Linked DNA regions of Homo sapiens: region 2 is linked to region 1. A link means that fine-mapping ties the variant in region 1 to the expression of a gene that starts in the linked region. Tissue or cell type: whole blood. Region 1 holds a variant in brackets; the other region holds the start of a gene. All regions are shown on one strand. Distances are between the middles of the regions.

The links. PIP is the estimated chance that this variant, and not a neighbour inherited with it, causes the effect.
Region 2: it holds the start of SCD5, and the variant in region 1 is fine-mapped to the expression of SCD5 in whole blood (TOPMed, PIP 0.97).

The regions. Positions count from the first base shown.
Region 1 is chr4:83,077,000-83,085,104 of GRCh38, forward strand. No RefSeq gene overlaps it. Among named protein-coding and RNA genes, the nearest start is that of PLAC8, 34 kb to the right of the region's middle. RefSeq lists an enhancer at 7,354-7,403. The variant T/C (reference allele first, on the strand shown) is at 3,570.
Region 2 is chr4:82,794,182-82,802,270 of GRCh38, forward strand. It overlaps SCD5 (stearoyl-CoA desaturase 5), which reads right to left and starts at 4,615. Exons shown (of 5, transcript NM_001037582.3): 1 at 4,125-4,615. The coding sequence starts at 4,356. RefSeq lists enhancers at 2,841-3,362, 4,339-5,056, 5,057-5,773 and silencers at 4,171-4,220, 4,551-4,970.

The DNA of each region.
Region 1 (8,105 bases):
GACAAGTTCAAGAACAGATCGGTAATATAAGCAGAGAGATGGGAACTCTAAAGATTTGAAATGCTAGAAATAAAGAAAAAAACACTCTCACAGAAATGAATGCCTTTGATGGGCTTATCATTAGTCTACTTGGCCAAGGAAAGAAACAGCCTGATAATATGTCAATAGAAACTTCCTAAACTGAAATGCAAAGAGAAAAAGGAATGAAAAAAAAAAAATTGGGACAGAATATCCAAGAACTGGAGAACAATATAAAAGGTGTCACATGTGGTCAGGCGCGGTGGCTCACGCCTGTAATCCCAGCACTTTGGGAGGCCGAGGCGGGCACATCACAAGGTCAGGAGATTGAGACCAGCCTGGTTAACACGGTGAAACACCGTCTCAACTAAAAAATACAAAAAATTAGCCAGTGGTGGTGGGTGCCTATAGTCCCAGCTACTTGGTAGGCTGAGGCAGGAGAATGGCGTGAACCCGGGAGGCAGAGCTTGCAGTGAGCTGGTATCACGCCACTGCACTCCAGCCTGGGCGACAGAGCGAGACTCTGTCGTGTCACATGTGTAATGGGGATACCAGAAGGAAAAGAAAGAGGAAGAGAAGAAATATTTGAAATAGGCCGGGCACGGTGGCTCACACCTGTAATCCCAGCACTTTGGGAGGCCGAGGTGGGCGGATCACGAGGTCAGGAGATCTGGCTAACATGGTGAAACCCCGTCTCTACTAAAAATACAAAAAATTAGCCAGGAGTGGTGGCAGGCGCCTGTAGTCCCAGCTACTCGGGAGGCTGAGGCAAGAGAATGGCATGAACCCGGGAGGCAGAGCTTGCAGTGAGCCGAGAGCACGCCACTGAACTCCAGCCTGGGCAACAGAGGGAGACTCCTTCTCAAAAAAAAAAAAAAAAAAAAAAAAATTTGAAATAATGTTTAAGAATTTTCTGAAATGAATAATAGACACTAAACCACAGATCCAGGAAGCTAAGAAAAGGCCAAGCAGAATAACTACCAAAAAATTGACACCTAGATGTATATCTAAACTGTAGAAAACCAAAAACATAAAATCTTGAAAGAAGCCAGAAGAAAAAAACACATATAGAGAAACATGAATAACATTGGATTTCTTGTCAGAAATCATGCAAGCAAGAGCCAGAATGGAAATATTTATGATGTTAAAAGAAAAACTTCACAAACATAGGATTTTATCCAGCAAAATTATCCTTCAAATGTGAAGGAGAAAAGCAAAGAGAAAATCAAATTGAAAAAAAGAAATAGTGAAGGAGAAATGAAGACTAAAACTAAGGAAATTTAAGGCTGGGCATAGTGGCTCAGACCTATAATCCCAACATTTGGGGAGGCCAAGGCAGGTGTATTGCTTGAGCCCAGGAGTTCAAGACCAGTTTGGGCAACATGGCGAAACCCCGTCTCTACAAAAAATATAAAAGTAGCCAGGCATGGTGGTGTGTGCCTGTGGTCTCAGCTACTTGGGAGGCTGAAATGGGAGGATTGTTTGAGCCAGGGAGGTGGAGGTTGCAGTGAGCTGAGATTGCACCATTGCACTCCAGTCTGGGTGATAGTGTGAGACCCTGTCTCAAAAAAAAAAAAAAGGATTCTTTTTTTGCCAGGAGACATACTTTGCAAGAAATGTTAAAGTAAGGTTTCCAGAGAGAAGGAAAATGATATGGATTAGAAACTCAGATCTACATAAAGAAAGGAAGAGTATCAGAGCAAAAAAACAGGAAGGTAAAATCTTTTTAAAAAATTTAATTGATTTAATAGATAACTTTATTTAAAGGAATTATAGCAACAATGTGTGGATAGCTATAGCCTAGGGATAACTGAAGTGAATGACTGGAGTGTAAGTGATGGGAGGAAGGAATTGGGAATACCCTGTTATGAAGTATCCGCACAACCATGACACAGTATAGTGTTATTTGAAACTTGACTTAGATTAGTTGTAAATGTATATTGCAAACTCTAAATCACTATTAAAAAACTTTTTAAAGAAATATAATTGTTATGCTAAGAGAGGAGAGAAATAGAATGATAAAATGCTTATTTAAAACCAGAGTGTCAGCCAGGCGTGGTGGCTCACGCCTGTAATCCTAGCACTTTGGGAGGCTGAGGCAGGTGGATCACCTGAGGTCAGGAATTTGAGACCAGCCTAGCCAATATGGCGAAACCCTATCTCTACTAAAAATACAAAAATTAGCCAGGCATGGTGGCGGATGCCTGTAATCCCAGCTACTTGGGAGGCTGAGGCAGGAGAATTACTTGAATCCTGGGGGTGGAGGTTGCAGTGAGCTGAGATCACACCACTTCACTCCAGCCTGGGCAGCAGAGTGAAACTCCGTCTCAAAATAAATAAATAAAATAAAATAAAATAAAATCAGAGTGTCAGCAAGAGTATCAAAAAATACATGAGGCAGAAACTGATAAAACTGCAAGGAGAAATAGATGAATCCACTATTATAGTTGGAGATCTCAACTTCAATGCCTATCAGCAAAGGACAGATCCAGTAAGTAGAAAATCAGTAAGGACATTGTTGTACTCAACAGCACCACCAATCAACTGAATATAATTGACATCCATAGACTGCTTCGTCCTGCAACAACAGAGTACTCACTCTTGTCAGCTCACTTGGAGCGTTCACTGAGGTAGACCAACCTGGGCCATAAAACACACCTCAAAATGTAAAAGAATAGAAATTATACACTGTATGTTCTCAGACAACAATGGAATTTTTTTCTTTTTGAGACAGAGTTTTGCTCTTGTCACCCAGGCTGGAGTGCAGTGGTGTGATCTTGGCTCACTGCAACCTCTGCCTCCCGGGTTCAAGCAATTCTGCCTCATAATCATAATCCTGAAAGACACAATCCTGAATGCCAAACCCCAAATGTTGATGTCCCAAAAGATCAAAATCCTTAAAGTTCAAAATTTCTAAAGTCTAAATCCCTCATGTCTAAAATCCTGAAAATTACAATCCCAAAAGATTAAAATCCTCAATGTTGAAACCCTGAAAGCCAAATTCTGGGGAAGGGGATTAGTGTATTTTTTGGTTGTACACAGGATGGTTGCATCATGTTAGTTGTGTCATGTCAAGCAGAACCATAGCCTTTTTGTCTTTATTTGGAAATTAAGTGTGATTTAAGGGGATGCAAATGAGTGCCAAATTGACAAGGGGTGGACAGTGGACATAATTTTAGGTGTCAACTTGAATGGATTAAGGAATACCTAGAAACCTGGTAAAGCATTATTTTGGATGTGGCTGTGAGAGTGTTTTCAGAGATTAGAATGTGAGTCTGAGTGGACTAAGTGGGGGATGATCTGCCCTCATTGTTGGGAGGCACCAACTACTTGACCAGGGTCCCAAACAGAACAAATATAGAAGGCAAATTGGTCTCTCTCTGAGATCTGGGACAGACTTTTCTTCTCCTGTCTTGGACCCAGAACTCCAGGTTTGCCAGCCTTCGGACTCCGGAACTTACACCAGTGGCCCCCTGGATCCTGAGGCTTTTGGCCTCAGATGGATAGTTGCACCATCAGCTTTCCTGGTTCTGAGGCCTTTGGAGTTGGAC[T/C]GAACCATGCTACCGGTATCCCAAGGTCTCCAGCTTTCGGATGGCCTCACCGTGGGTCTTTTCAGCCACCATAATTGCATGAGCCAAGTTCCCTAATAAATTTCCTCTCATATCCTATTGGTTCTGTCTCTCTAGAGAACCCTGACTAATACAGATTTGGTATTGGGGAAGCTGAACATCATTTCTTCTTACTGTATTGCTTACCACACAATGGAAGAGATCTGTGAAATTGTTCCCTTGCAAAAAGGCTGTGTTAAGTGTATGAGGCTACTTAACAGTGAAACAGTTTAAAAGTTAATTGTTATTCGTGCTGCAAACGTAGAAAATCACCTAATTGCAATGGCTGAGAAATAACCAGACTTTCAGATGGACAGCAGGTACTTACGAAATTTGTAGACCACAACCACTCCCCAAATACAAGTACTGTGAGTGTTTTGAAGATCATAGAAGTGAAAACACAGGCCAAAAATACAAGAAATCTCTTATGCCAAATTATTTAATCATGTATGGCTTCTGCCCCTTTACACATAATGCCAACTCGATATGCTATGTATTTCATCTTCGCATTATTTTCAATACTGAAGGTAAATTTAGATCTCTCTTTTTTTCTTAGTCTGGCTAAAAGCTTGTCAATTTTGCTTAACTTTTCAAAAAACCAACTTTTTGTTTCATTGATTTTTGTATTGTTTACTTCATTTTAATTTCATTTATTTCTGTTCTGATCTTTATTATTTCTTCTACTAATTTTGGATTTGGTTTGCTCTTGTTTTCCTAATTCTTTAAGATGCATCATTAGATTGTTTATTTAATGTAGGCACTATAAGTTTCCCTCTTTTTTGATGTAGGCACTATAACGATAAGCTTCCCTCTTAGTACTGCTTTTGCTGTATCCCATAGATTTTGGTATGTTGTGCTCCCATTAGCATTTGTTCCAAGAAATTTTTAAATTTCTTATTAAAATGATCCATCCTTGAGAATGATCCATATGCTGAGGAAAAGCATGTGTATTCCACAGCCATTGGATGAAATGTTCCGTAATTATCTACTGGATCCATTTGGTCTATTGTGCAGATTAAGTCTGATGTTTCTTTATTGATTTTTCTGCCTGGAAGATCCATCCAGTGCTGAAAGTGGGGTGTCGAAGTCTCCAGCTATTATTGTATTGGGGCCTAACTCTCTCTTTAGCTCTTTTTTTTGTTTTGTTTTGTTTTGAGATGGAGCCTGGCTCTGTTGCCCAGGGTGGAGTGCAGTGGTATGATCTTGGCTCACTGCAACCTCCGCCTCCCAGGTTCAAGCTATTCTCCTGCCTCAGCCTCCCAAGTAGCTGGGATTACAGACATGTGCCACCATACCCGGCTAATTTTGTATTTTTAGTAGAGATAGGGTTTCTCCATCTTGGTCAAGCTGGTCTCGAACTCCCAACCTCAGGTGATCCACCTGCCTTGGCCTCCCCAAAGTGCTGGGATTATAGGCATGAGCCACTGCGCCTGGCCTTTTTTATTTTTTTAAGGAGGGGGGGGGTCTCACTACATTGTCTAGGCTAGACTCAAACTCCTGGGCTCAAGTGATCCTTCTGCCTCGACCTCCTGAAATGCTGTGATTACAGGCATGAGCCACCATGACTGGCCCTGACTGTGTATTTTCAAATAGCCTGTCTTCAGGCTCACTAATTCTTTCTTCTGCTTGATCAATTCTGCTACTGAAAGCCTCTAATGCATTGTTCAGTATGCCAATTGCATTTTTAGCTCTGGAATCTCAGTTTGATTCTTTTTATTTTAATCTTTTTGTTAAATGTATCTGATATAATTTTGAATTCCTTCTCTGTGTTATCTTGAATTTCTTGAGTTTCCTCAACACAGCTATTTTGAATTCTCTGCCTGAAAGGTCACACATCTCTGTTTCTCCAGGATTGGTCCCTGGTGGCTCATTTAGTTCATTTGGGAGGTCATGTTTTCCTGGATGGTGTTGATGTTAGTAAATGTTCTTCAGTGTCTGGGCATTGAAGAGTGAAGTATTTATTGTAGTCTTCACTGTCTAGGCTTATTTGTACCCATCCCTCTTAGAAAGGCTTTCCAGATATTTGAAAGTACTTGGATATTGTGATGTAAGCTGTATCTGATTTAGAGAGCACCCCAATCCCAGTAACACTGTTTTCTTGCAGACTCATGGAGGTACTACCTTGATGGTCTTGGAAAAGATCCAGAAGAATTCTCTGCATTATCAGGCAGAGAGACTCCTGTTCCATTCTGTTACTTTCTTCCAAGCAAAAAGAGTCTCACTCTCCTTGTTCTGAGCCACATAAAGCCGGCGGTGGAGTGACACAAGCATCCCTGTGGCCACCACCACTATGACTGCATTGGGTCAGACCTGAAGCCAGCACAGCAGTGGGGCTTGCCAAGGCTGGCTGTAACCACTTCCTGGCTACTGCCTATGTTTGCTGAAGGCCCTGGGGCTCTACAATTAGCTGGTGGCAAAGCCGGCCAGGCCTGTGTCCTTCCCTTCAGAGCCGTGAGGTCCCCCAGGCCCCAGGTGAGTCCAGAGGTGCCTTTTGGGAATCAGGGACTAGAGTAAAAAAACTTGGAAGTCTAGCTGGTGTTCTATTGTACTGTGGCTGAGCTGGTATTCAGACCACCAGATGCAGTCCTTCCCACTCTTCCTTTCCCTTCCCAAATGCAGAGGAGCCTCACCCCATAGCCACTGTCAACCCAGGCCACGAGGAGTACTGCCAGGCTACCTCCAATATTCCCTTAAGCATCGAGGTATCTTAAGTCAAGCTTGTGTTGAATGCTTCCTGCCTTGGGACTCGCCCTTCAGGGCAATGGGTTCCCCTCTGGCCTGGGGCAGGTGCAGAAATGGTGTCCAACAGTCAAGTCCTGGAATCGGAGACCTCAAGAGCCCACTTGGTGCTTTACCCCACTGTGGCTGTGCTGGTACCTAAGGTGCAAGACAAAGCCCTCTTTACTTTTCCTTCTGCTTTTCTCAAACAGAAGGAGTTTTGCCTTGTTGCCACCACAGCTAGTAATGTGCTGAGTCTCACCTGAAGCCAGCAAGTCTCAGAGGCTCAACCAAGGGCCTTGACATAGTACCTAAATGTAACTGCTGGTTATTCAGGGTCCTGCCAACCTTCAGTTAGCAGGTGATGAATGCTGCCAGGACTGAGTCCTTTTCTTCAAGGTAGTGGGTTTCCTTCTGACCCATGGTGTGTCTAGAAATGTCATCTGGGAACTAGGGCCTGGAATGGGGGCCTCACGACTCTTCCCAGTCCCCTATTCTGCCGCAGCTGAACTGGTATCCAAGATGCAAGATGAAGTCCTCCCCACTCTTCTTTCTCCTCTCCACAAGCAGAAGGAAAGGGTCTCCTTTGGAGCCACGGGCTGTGCAGCCTGGAGTTAGGGAAGGGGTGACGCCAGCACGCCCTTGGCTGCCTTAGCTGGTGTCTCAGTATGTCACCTGCCCTCCCAGTTAACTGCCTCTGGGCCTAGTTCAGCACTAGAACTCGCCTGAGATCTGCAGTCTTCATGGCCTGGGCTGCCTTTCAAGTTTACTTGGAGACCCAGACTGTAGCCCTCGGTGGTGAGGTTTGCAGGAACTCAAGTTTAGACCACTGGGATCAGTGATTCCCCTCTGGGTAGGGCTGTTATTAAATGCTCCCTCCATGGGCAGGCGTCAGCTGAGTTGGGTGTGGTTTTCCTTCCTGCCGTAACAGGACAGCACTGAGTTCAGTGCATCACAGTTGCTGTGTTCTCCCTCCCGTGCACGCAGAGATATCCTCAGTACCACAACACAGCTGCAGGGGCAGAGGGGCGTCAGTGATTCAGGACTGTTTTTGCTATTTCTTCGGTGTCTCTTTCAGCATTATAAAGTTAAGAGCAGGTACTATGAGTGCTCACCTGATTTTTAACACCTCATGAAGTTGTTAAATTGGTGTCCTTGTGGAGGGGGATGATAGCTGCAGTCTTCTATTCCTCCATTTTTCTCTGTCTCCTCATTTTTTTTTTTTTTTTTTTGGAGACGGAGTCTTGCTCTGTCACCCAGGCTGGAGTGCAATGGCACGATCTCGGCTCACTGCAGCCTCCGCCTCCAGGTTCAAGCGATTCTCCTGCCTCAGACTCCTGAGTAGCTGGGACTACAGGTGCTACCATGAACAGCTAAATTTAATTTTTTTAATTATTATATATTGTGGGCGAAGGATTACCTAGGTGCCGAGGCAAGAGACTAAAGGCACAAACTGTTTCAGTATAATAAAGAAAATAGAATAAGAATAGTCATAATACAAATTAGATATAGAGATGATCGTGGACAATTATCAATCATTATTATAAACATTATTAATCATTAGCTTTTAATATTACTCTTTGTTGCATTACTAATATAACCTAGGAATAACCAGCGGGTATAGGGTCAGGTGCTGAAAGCACATTGTGACAAGTTACCTAGAAGGCAAGAGCTGAGCCTTCTGTCACGCCCGCATAAGGGCCGCTTGAGGGCTCCTTGGTCAAGCGGTAATGCCAGTGTCTGGGAAGACACCCACGACGT
Region 2 (8,089 bases), 280 kb before region 1:
CCCAGCAGGGCACCAGAGAACGCTATATCTGCCTTAACAATGGTCACGTTTGCGCCAAGACAGGATAGAAGGATGGCTGATCTATCAAAGGAAACAGGGAAAATTACTGCTTTGCATGCCTGGTGCTGTCACTGAAGTTATCTCATGAGGAAAAGAGTCATGATGTCACTATGGGACACATTTAGGGGACTCGGATGACATTTAGGGAAAAAACAGAAAAGGCCTTGATGTTTCTGGGAGCCAACAGCCAGATGTCTGGAGGCCATCAGGGGAGGCTCCGCTGGGAAGCAGCCCCAGGACTCACACGTCCACACAGTAACTGCAAGGCCTCACTCCCTGCTCTACCCATCTTGGGATTCAGGGCATTGACTAACTGTCCCTTTGGCCAGAAACTCTCAAGCAGGCATTTTTGTGAGCTCAAGCCTTCAGATGCAGGTTTTTCCTCTAGTTGGAGTTTGCATTCTGTCCATTTTTTTTTTTTTTTTTGAGACGGAGTCTCACTCTGTCGCCTAGGCTGGAGTGCAGTGGCGCAATCTCGGCTCCCTGCAAGCTCCACCTCCCAGGTTCACGCCATTCTCCTGCCTCAGCCTCCCGAGTAGCTGGGACTACAGGTGCCCACCACCACGCCCGGCTAATTTTTGTATTTTTTTTAGTAGAGATGGGGTTTCACCGTGTTAGCGAGGATGGTCTCGATCTCCTGACCTTGTGATCAGCCCGCCTCGGCCTCCCAAACTGCTGGGATTATAGGCGTGAGCCACCATGCCCGGCCGCTTTCTGTCCTTGAAAGTCATGAACGCATTGCTGAGGACCTGGGGGCACCAAGAGCATTCTGTCCTGACAGCCTGCCCACTCATAAAACGAAAAGGATAAAAAGGGAAAACAACATGCTCTGGCCCCAAGGAGAACTAACAACTTGATGAACTAACAATTTGATGGCTCTTTCACGGATGACATTTTACCACCACACAAATTACTCTCTGCACACTGCACATCCAACACATCCCCTGCTGGGTGCACTGCATAGATGCCTCTTGTTTCCAGCACAACCTCATCTGGTGTGGAGGGTGGCAAGCAATGGACAGGCTAAGCCTATTTCCTCTACAAGTCAGGTCCTTGAAGTGCATGAGCAGCCCACTGGGGCATGAACTTGGCCCTAATGCTACACATAACCAGTAGGGAGGTGGTGAAAAAGGGCCTTCAGTGGGGGGAAATTTGTGGATCAAGGCACCAGGGCTTTCACTGAAAATAACCCTGAGTCAGTGGTCTGCCTCGTCCCTCTGCTTACTATGTAGCCTAGCCATCAGCACAGCTGATCTTAGCTGGTCTCTGATTGTCCCTCATTTCTTCCCTCAAAAGCTATTCATGAGACTGGGTACAGTGGCTCACGCCTGTAATCCCAGTACTTTGGGAGGACTGCTTGAGCCCAGGAATTCAAGACCGGCCTGGGCAACATGGTGAGACCCCCATCTCTACAAAAAAATGAAAAAGAAAATAGCCAGGTGTGGTGGTGCACACCTGTAGTCCCAGCTACTTGGGAGGCTGCGGTGGGAGCATTGCTTGAGCCCAGGAGACTGAGACTGCAGTGAGCTATGATCGTGCCACTGCACTCCAGCAAGACCCTGTCTCACAAAAAAAAAAAAAAAAAAAAAAAAAAGCAGCAGAGGCAGTAGCTATTCATCAGATAAGACCCATTGTTTGGACTGTTTCTAAGTCACAATTTTGGACCTTAAAACTCTAATATCTACCATTGTCTGCTATTTTTTTTTTTAGGGAGGCAATGAAGGTGGGGAGAGAATTAAGACTTACGGGCCGGGCGCAGTGGCTCACGCCTGTAATTCCAGCAGTTTAGGAGGCTGAGGTGGGTGGATCACGAGGTCAGGAGATTGAGACCATCCTGGCTAACACGGTGAAACCCCATCTCTACTAAAAATACAAAAAATTAGCCGGGCGTGGTGGCGGGCACCTGTAATCCCAACTACTTGGGAGGCTGAAGCAGGAGAATGGTGTGAACCCAGGAGGCGGAGCTTGCGGTGAGCCGAGATCGCACCACTGCACTCCAGCCTGGGCGACAGAGCGAGACTCTGTCTCAAAAAAAAAAAAAAGACTTAGGAAATAGCAGATGAAGCACAGGCAGAATTTATCCAGGAAGGTATGGAATGGGGTTTGGGACATGAGTCACAAAGGGGAAACCAGATTCCTTCAGTGTGTTAACTTCTCTAAGGAAGCTAGAGGACACTGGGGCCTGGGAGGTGTCCTCTAAGCCAAGATCTTTCAGAACAAAGGTTCTATCTTCACCACAGAGAGCGGTCCGGAAAGGGCAGAGGTGACCTGGCAAACTTGGAGAGAGGGGCCTTGTCCTTGTGGCTCCTGGTCCAGTGCCAGGGTCTTGGGGCTCAGAGGCTGTAAGAAGTGGAGCCAGTGAGCCCTAGGCATGTAAGATAATATTTTAAGTGCTCACTTTTCCCTGAGCACTCTCTGAACACCACAGCTATTAAAGATAAGCCTCAATCCCCTAGAGGTCACCAGGCTCTGAGGACCAAGCCCAGCCCTGCCTCTGGAAGCAGGGGGGAGAGAGGAGCTTGTTGGAGAACTCTGGGCAATAAGGGCTTTGGTTGGCAGTGTCGGAGTGTGTTGATGAAGCAACAGCTGAACATCATACAGTCTACAGTCAGTTGGAGAATTAAACCAACACATAAAGGTGATGGTGAAAAGGACACAGAAATGAGGAGGTGCACTGAGAGAAGGAAAGATGAAGCAGGAGATTTCCCAGAGCTTTGGGGAGACTTTAAAGGCTTTAGGGATCCCCAAAGATCCTACCTCTCTCACCATCCGTCAACTCTGCTATGCCCTCCCTGAGCCACACCCCCTAAGAGGTACCCACTTCTGGATGGGTTTACTTCCAAGAGCAGGGACTGCAGGATTTCAAGGGAAGGCTTGGAACCATAGTGGCCCCATTATCTACCTAGGCATTTGCAGCTGGCACCATGCCAAAAAAGCCCTGTAGAAAGAGGTCTTATTTTCTTCCTTCCTCTTCCCCTCTGGAAATAAAAGTAGGTTGTGTTTCTCCTGCCCGCCCCTAGAGATCAGGGAAACGGGAGCTGGAAGGGCATCTTGGATTACCTCGTCAAATTCTCACTCAGCATATCAATGCCTGTGCCTTTTGTCCTGGCTACTGCCGCTTCAGTAAAGGAGGCCAAAACCAGTTATTGCGGCCAGGGCGGCTGCGAAGTGGTTCAAAGATCAACGACTGGGGTCGTGTAGGGTGGGCACGCAGTCCCTGGGGCCCAGGGGAAGGGGAATGGTGGTCGGCGCCCGGGCTCCCTTCCCTACTGGCAGGAGTGGGGGTGCACGGAAGGAGGGTACCAGGAGAGCCACAGGTTCCCACTGGCCACATGGGAACAGGGTTTGGAGAAGGCTCTGCACAGCCACAGTCGGAGCTTCGTGCTAGGGTCAGACCGCTCTCGCCATGGGATCGGTTTGCTCACCGAGAAACTTCACCGAGAACTGCAAATGGGCATAGAAGATTGCGGAGGGGGCAGGGACAGGGGCCTTGGAGAGGCAAGAGGGGAACCGGTATCTTCCATCTGGTGCGCGTAAACCAAGACTCTATCCTGTGCCGGGTCTCTCCTCCCCGGTCCAACTCCCTTACTTGTCCTCATCTCTGTCCCCAAGGTCCGTGACCCGCGGAGGTGATGGGGGGGATAGGAGAGCCCCAGGGACCGCAGAGGTGACACAATCGCCCGCCCGTCCTCCCTCGCTGGGAGCCGATTCAGCCTGTGCCGAGCCTCTCCCTTCGCGCGCCTCTGCGCACAGCGGTGGCACCGCAGGACTCCGGGTCCCCCCCGGCTCTCCATCGGGAAGCCGGCAAATGCGCTTCCTCAGGCAGACCGCGGCGGGGTGGGGGCGGGGGGGGGGCGGAAGTTGAAATACTGGGACAGAAACACCTGCCCGTCCCAAGGGACGGAAAACTGGATGCCAAGGGGGCCGCGGCGCGCAGCGGGAGGCGAGGGGAGACCGGGGGTCGCTGCGCACCGCCCGCAGCCGAGGGGCGAGCGGCGACCTCGCGCGCCCCAGCGCGGCCTGGCCACGGAGGCCGGGGCGCAGGGGGCGCCGGCGGGACTTACCCCAGAGCAGAGTGAGTGGCTTGGCTTTGGGGATGAGCACCAGGGAGTACACGGCCCCCAAGTGGAGCAAGCTCATCAGGACGACATTCCTCCAGACGATGTTCTGCCGCTGCCCGCGCGCGCCTGGCCTCTCCGGGCCGCCGCCGCCCTCAGAGCTTTCGAGCCCGGCACGGATTTCTTCCTTGGCGTCGCAGAAAGGGATCTTCCCCGCGTCGGTGGCCGGGCCTGGCATGGCTGGGCGAGGTGGGCGCCCGCAGCAGCGGCAGGCAGGCAGGCGCTCTGCCCGAGCGGAGCTCGAGGGTGGGGGCGGGGGCTTCTGCCTTTTAGGGGGGAATTCTCCGCACGTCCAGTCCCCTCCTTCCAGCCCTTCTCCCGGGCTCCTGCGCTCTTCCCCAGGGTCTTAGCGTGGCCTAGGGATGCAGATCTTGGCGGCCGGCGTCTGTTGCTGGCGTATCCCCCATATGGCTGCCCGGGCTGAACTCGGCCGCGAGAAAGAGGAGGCGCGCGCGGGGCGGGAGGGGCGCGCGGCCGGGGAGGAGGAGCTGTGAAAATGGAACGGGGCCGGCGACGCTGGAGGGAGCGCTCCGAAGGAGCGCGGAAGAAAGCCCTGCTTAGCTACAGCCAATCAGGAGCGCCCGTGCGGCGCTTATAGACAAAGGCGCCCCCCTTTCGGCTTTTCGGGGCCGAACTGGGGAGCCCGCTGGGCGGGAGTTGGCCGCCTCCGCCCGGGGGCGGGTGGAAGGTGGCTCCCGGGGCAGGGAGCCTGCAGGGCGGCTCACAGCGCTTCTGCTCTTGTGTGTGTGTGACCCCCAAAATGCCTTTTATGGTATTTTTCCAGTCCCCCCCCCAAAAAAAAACTTCCCGAAACTGTCATCCCTTTGAGAAGCCTTTTATTTCTTCTCAAGCCTCAGGCCACCTGGGTTGGAGAATTTTAAATACTTGCTTGGAGTCGCGACCCTAGTTAAGGCCAGACCCACGATGAGAATCAGAAGTCCCTCAATCTGCCAGTTAGTAGGGCTCCTCGGGCCAGGGGAGGGTTGGAAGGCAGCTGCTCGTTCTTAATTAGGCAGCTGTGGATTACCCAGGCACACAGTAAGTGCTCAGTTGGTGCTTGTGAGGTGATGCACAGATGATTTGGGCCAGTTCGCTGCCCACCCTTTGCCCATCCGCCGCGCCACTCTGTTTATGGTCAATTCTAGCTAATCAGCGCACTTCTGCAACGCCTCCTTAGCTCTCAGTGAGGAACACTACCCTGAAATCAACACCATTGAGAATCGGGCTTTACAAAAAAATCACCCAGAATGTTCCAAGGAAAATTAACCTGTGAAAGATTTGTGTCTGCCCACTTCTCTCCTAGAGCTGATGGCTTAAGAGCTCTCCAGAGAGGACCCTAGTTGCACAGAAAATGGAGGGAGGATTGAGCTGGAAGTGTCTGAAGCAGGTGTGACCGCAATTGCGGGCAGGCAGCAGAAGTAAAAGGGCTCGGGACAGCATCTCTGAGTTCTAGTTTTAACTGGCTGGAACCCAGCCCAACTCTCTGGGCACGGATTTCCTTACCTGAGAAGCAGAACTAGTTTCTACTCTTCCTTCCAGCTTCCATATTCCATGAATGTGAGTTCGAAGGGGCGCCATTATATTGACCAAAACCAGCTGATTTTTAGATTAACCGTTGTTAGGAATCATTTCCAGGATTTCAAGAGAGGCAAAAAAATTTAAAAGACTGACTGCATGAAAGGGCCATGCATAAGCATCTTATTGTTAGCAGACCTGAGCCAGTCCTAGCAGCCAGACAAAACAATGCCTGATTTAAGCTAAAGCAAGGTATGTGGCACTTGTGGAATCTAGGCCACTGAGTCAGTGTTACTGTGTTGCTTCAGACGGAGCTGAAATTATAGAATTTGCCTGGAGACCAGATAAATGTCGGCCCTATATAATGACCAGTCAGACAGTGGAACATGAAGCTGGAGGGTGCGATTTTCATCTGTCTGTTCAACCTGGGCTATGTAATGAACCACGTTTTCTTCTCATGCTCCCTCTGCTCCCCATACCCAGCAGACCTTCCTACTCCCTGTGGCTCTCTAGTTCAGACTGTCCTTTCTCTCTGGGGTAGACTAGTTGCTCGGCCAAAAGCCTCTCTCCGGGTTATTGGAAAGGCTCAATGCTGTAAAGACCCTCATTCTAAACATTCAGTCATTTATTTGGCATTTATTGGGCATCTGCTATGTGCCAGGACCAGTGGGCACAGGGGATCCAAGGATGAATAAAGTCTGGTCCCGCCCCTAAAGGAGCTCCCATCTAGAAGCAAAGATGGAGCAAACAAATGTAACCTCTTGACTATGACCTTGGAAGGGCAGAAAGTTACAGTCCATTATCGGAAAAAAAAATTTAATTAGGTATCAAACTTACATACAAGGAGTCTAAGGGAAGCAAAAATAGTTCCTTATTGTCCCCCCTGAGAACCTTATTAGGTCAGCTGTTCTATCTTGAATCCATCTTTTGTTTGTTTGTTTGTTTTTGTTTTTGAGACGGAGTCTCGCTCTGTTGCCCAGGCTGGTGTGCAGAGGCCTGATCTCGGCTCACTGCAAGATCTGCCTCCCGGGTTCACGCCATTCTCCTGCCTCAGCCTCCCGAGTAGCTGGGACTACAGGTGCCCGCCACCACGCCCGGCTATTTTTTTTTTTTTTTTTTTTTTTGTATTTTTAGTAGAGACGGGGGTTTCACTGCGTTAGCCAGGATGGTCTCGATCTCCTGACCTTGTGATCCGCCAGCCTTGGCCTCCCAAAGTGGTGGGATTGCAGGCGTGAGCCACTGTGCCCGGCCCTTGAATCCATCTTGAATGAACATCTTTCTCTTTTCCCTCCTGTGGGTCAGACCAGGTATGACCAGTCATTTCAGCTGGCTGTCCTCATAATGGAGAAGATGTTTTTGTGTGTTGAGGGAGGAAAGAAGTGTTACTTAGGTTTGTCAGAGCCTGCCTATAAAAGGATTGTTGAAGAAAAATGGTCCTTCCAGGTCCAGCCTCAGAGTGAAACATCTACAAGATCCAAGATATATTCTTGCTGATAACGACGGTCCTCTTTAGCCAATTATGCCATAGGGGTCACTGCCTCTTTTCTCTGTCTTGCCAAAGACCCTAGTATATTTTCCTAGCTTCTAGTCAGGACCCCAGGAGTGGATAAGTATTCACCTGTCCCAGGATGGGGCAAATGGGACAGTAACCCTTATCCTGTCAAACACGTAATTACCAAAAATGTAATAAGAGCCATAATGGTGGTATACGCAAGATAATGTAGAGGTGCAAAGGAGGGAGTTGTTAATTCACACAGAAGCAGGGAGGAGGGGGAGTGATACCTGGGGAAGGATTTTTAAAAAATATTTAATTGTGGTAAAATACATGTAACATAAAATGTATGTAACAAAATTTACCACTGTAACCGTTTTTAAATGTACAGTTCAGTAGTGTTAACTATATATGCACATTACTGTGCAACCGATCTGCAGAACTTTATCATTTTGCAAAACTGAAACTTTATGCTCATTAAACTCCCCTTTCAATCTCCATCCAGATGCTGGCAACCACTGTGCTACTTTGTTTCAATTAGTTTGACTACTCTAGATACATCATATAAGTGAAATAATAGAGGATTTGTCTTTCTGTGACTGGCTTATTTCACTTAGAATGTTTTCAAAGCTCATCCAGGTTGTATGTGTTAGAATTCCCTTCCTTTTAAGACTGAATAATATTCTATTGTATGGATATGAATTTTGTTTATCCATTCATCTATCTAACAGTGGACATTTGGGTTGCGCCACCTTTTGGCTACTGGAAATAATGTTGCTGGGAACATGGGTGTACAAAGATCTCTTCAGGACCTGCTTTCAATTCTTTTCGGTATATATATGTATATCCAGAAGTGGTATTGCTGGATCTTATGGTAATTCTATGTTTAATTTTTTGAGGAACT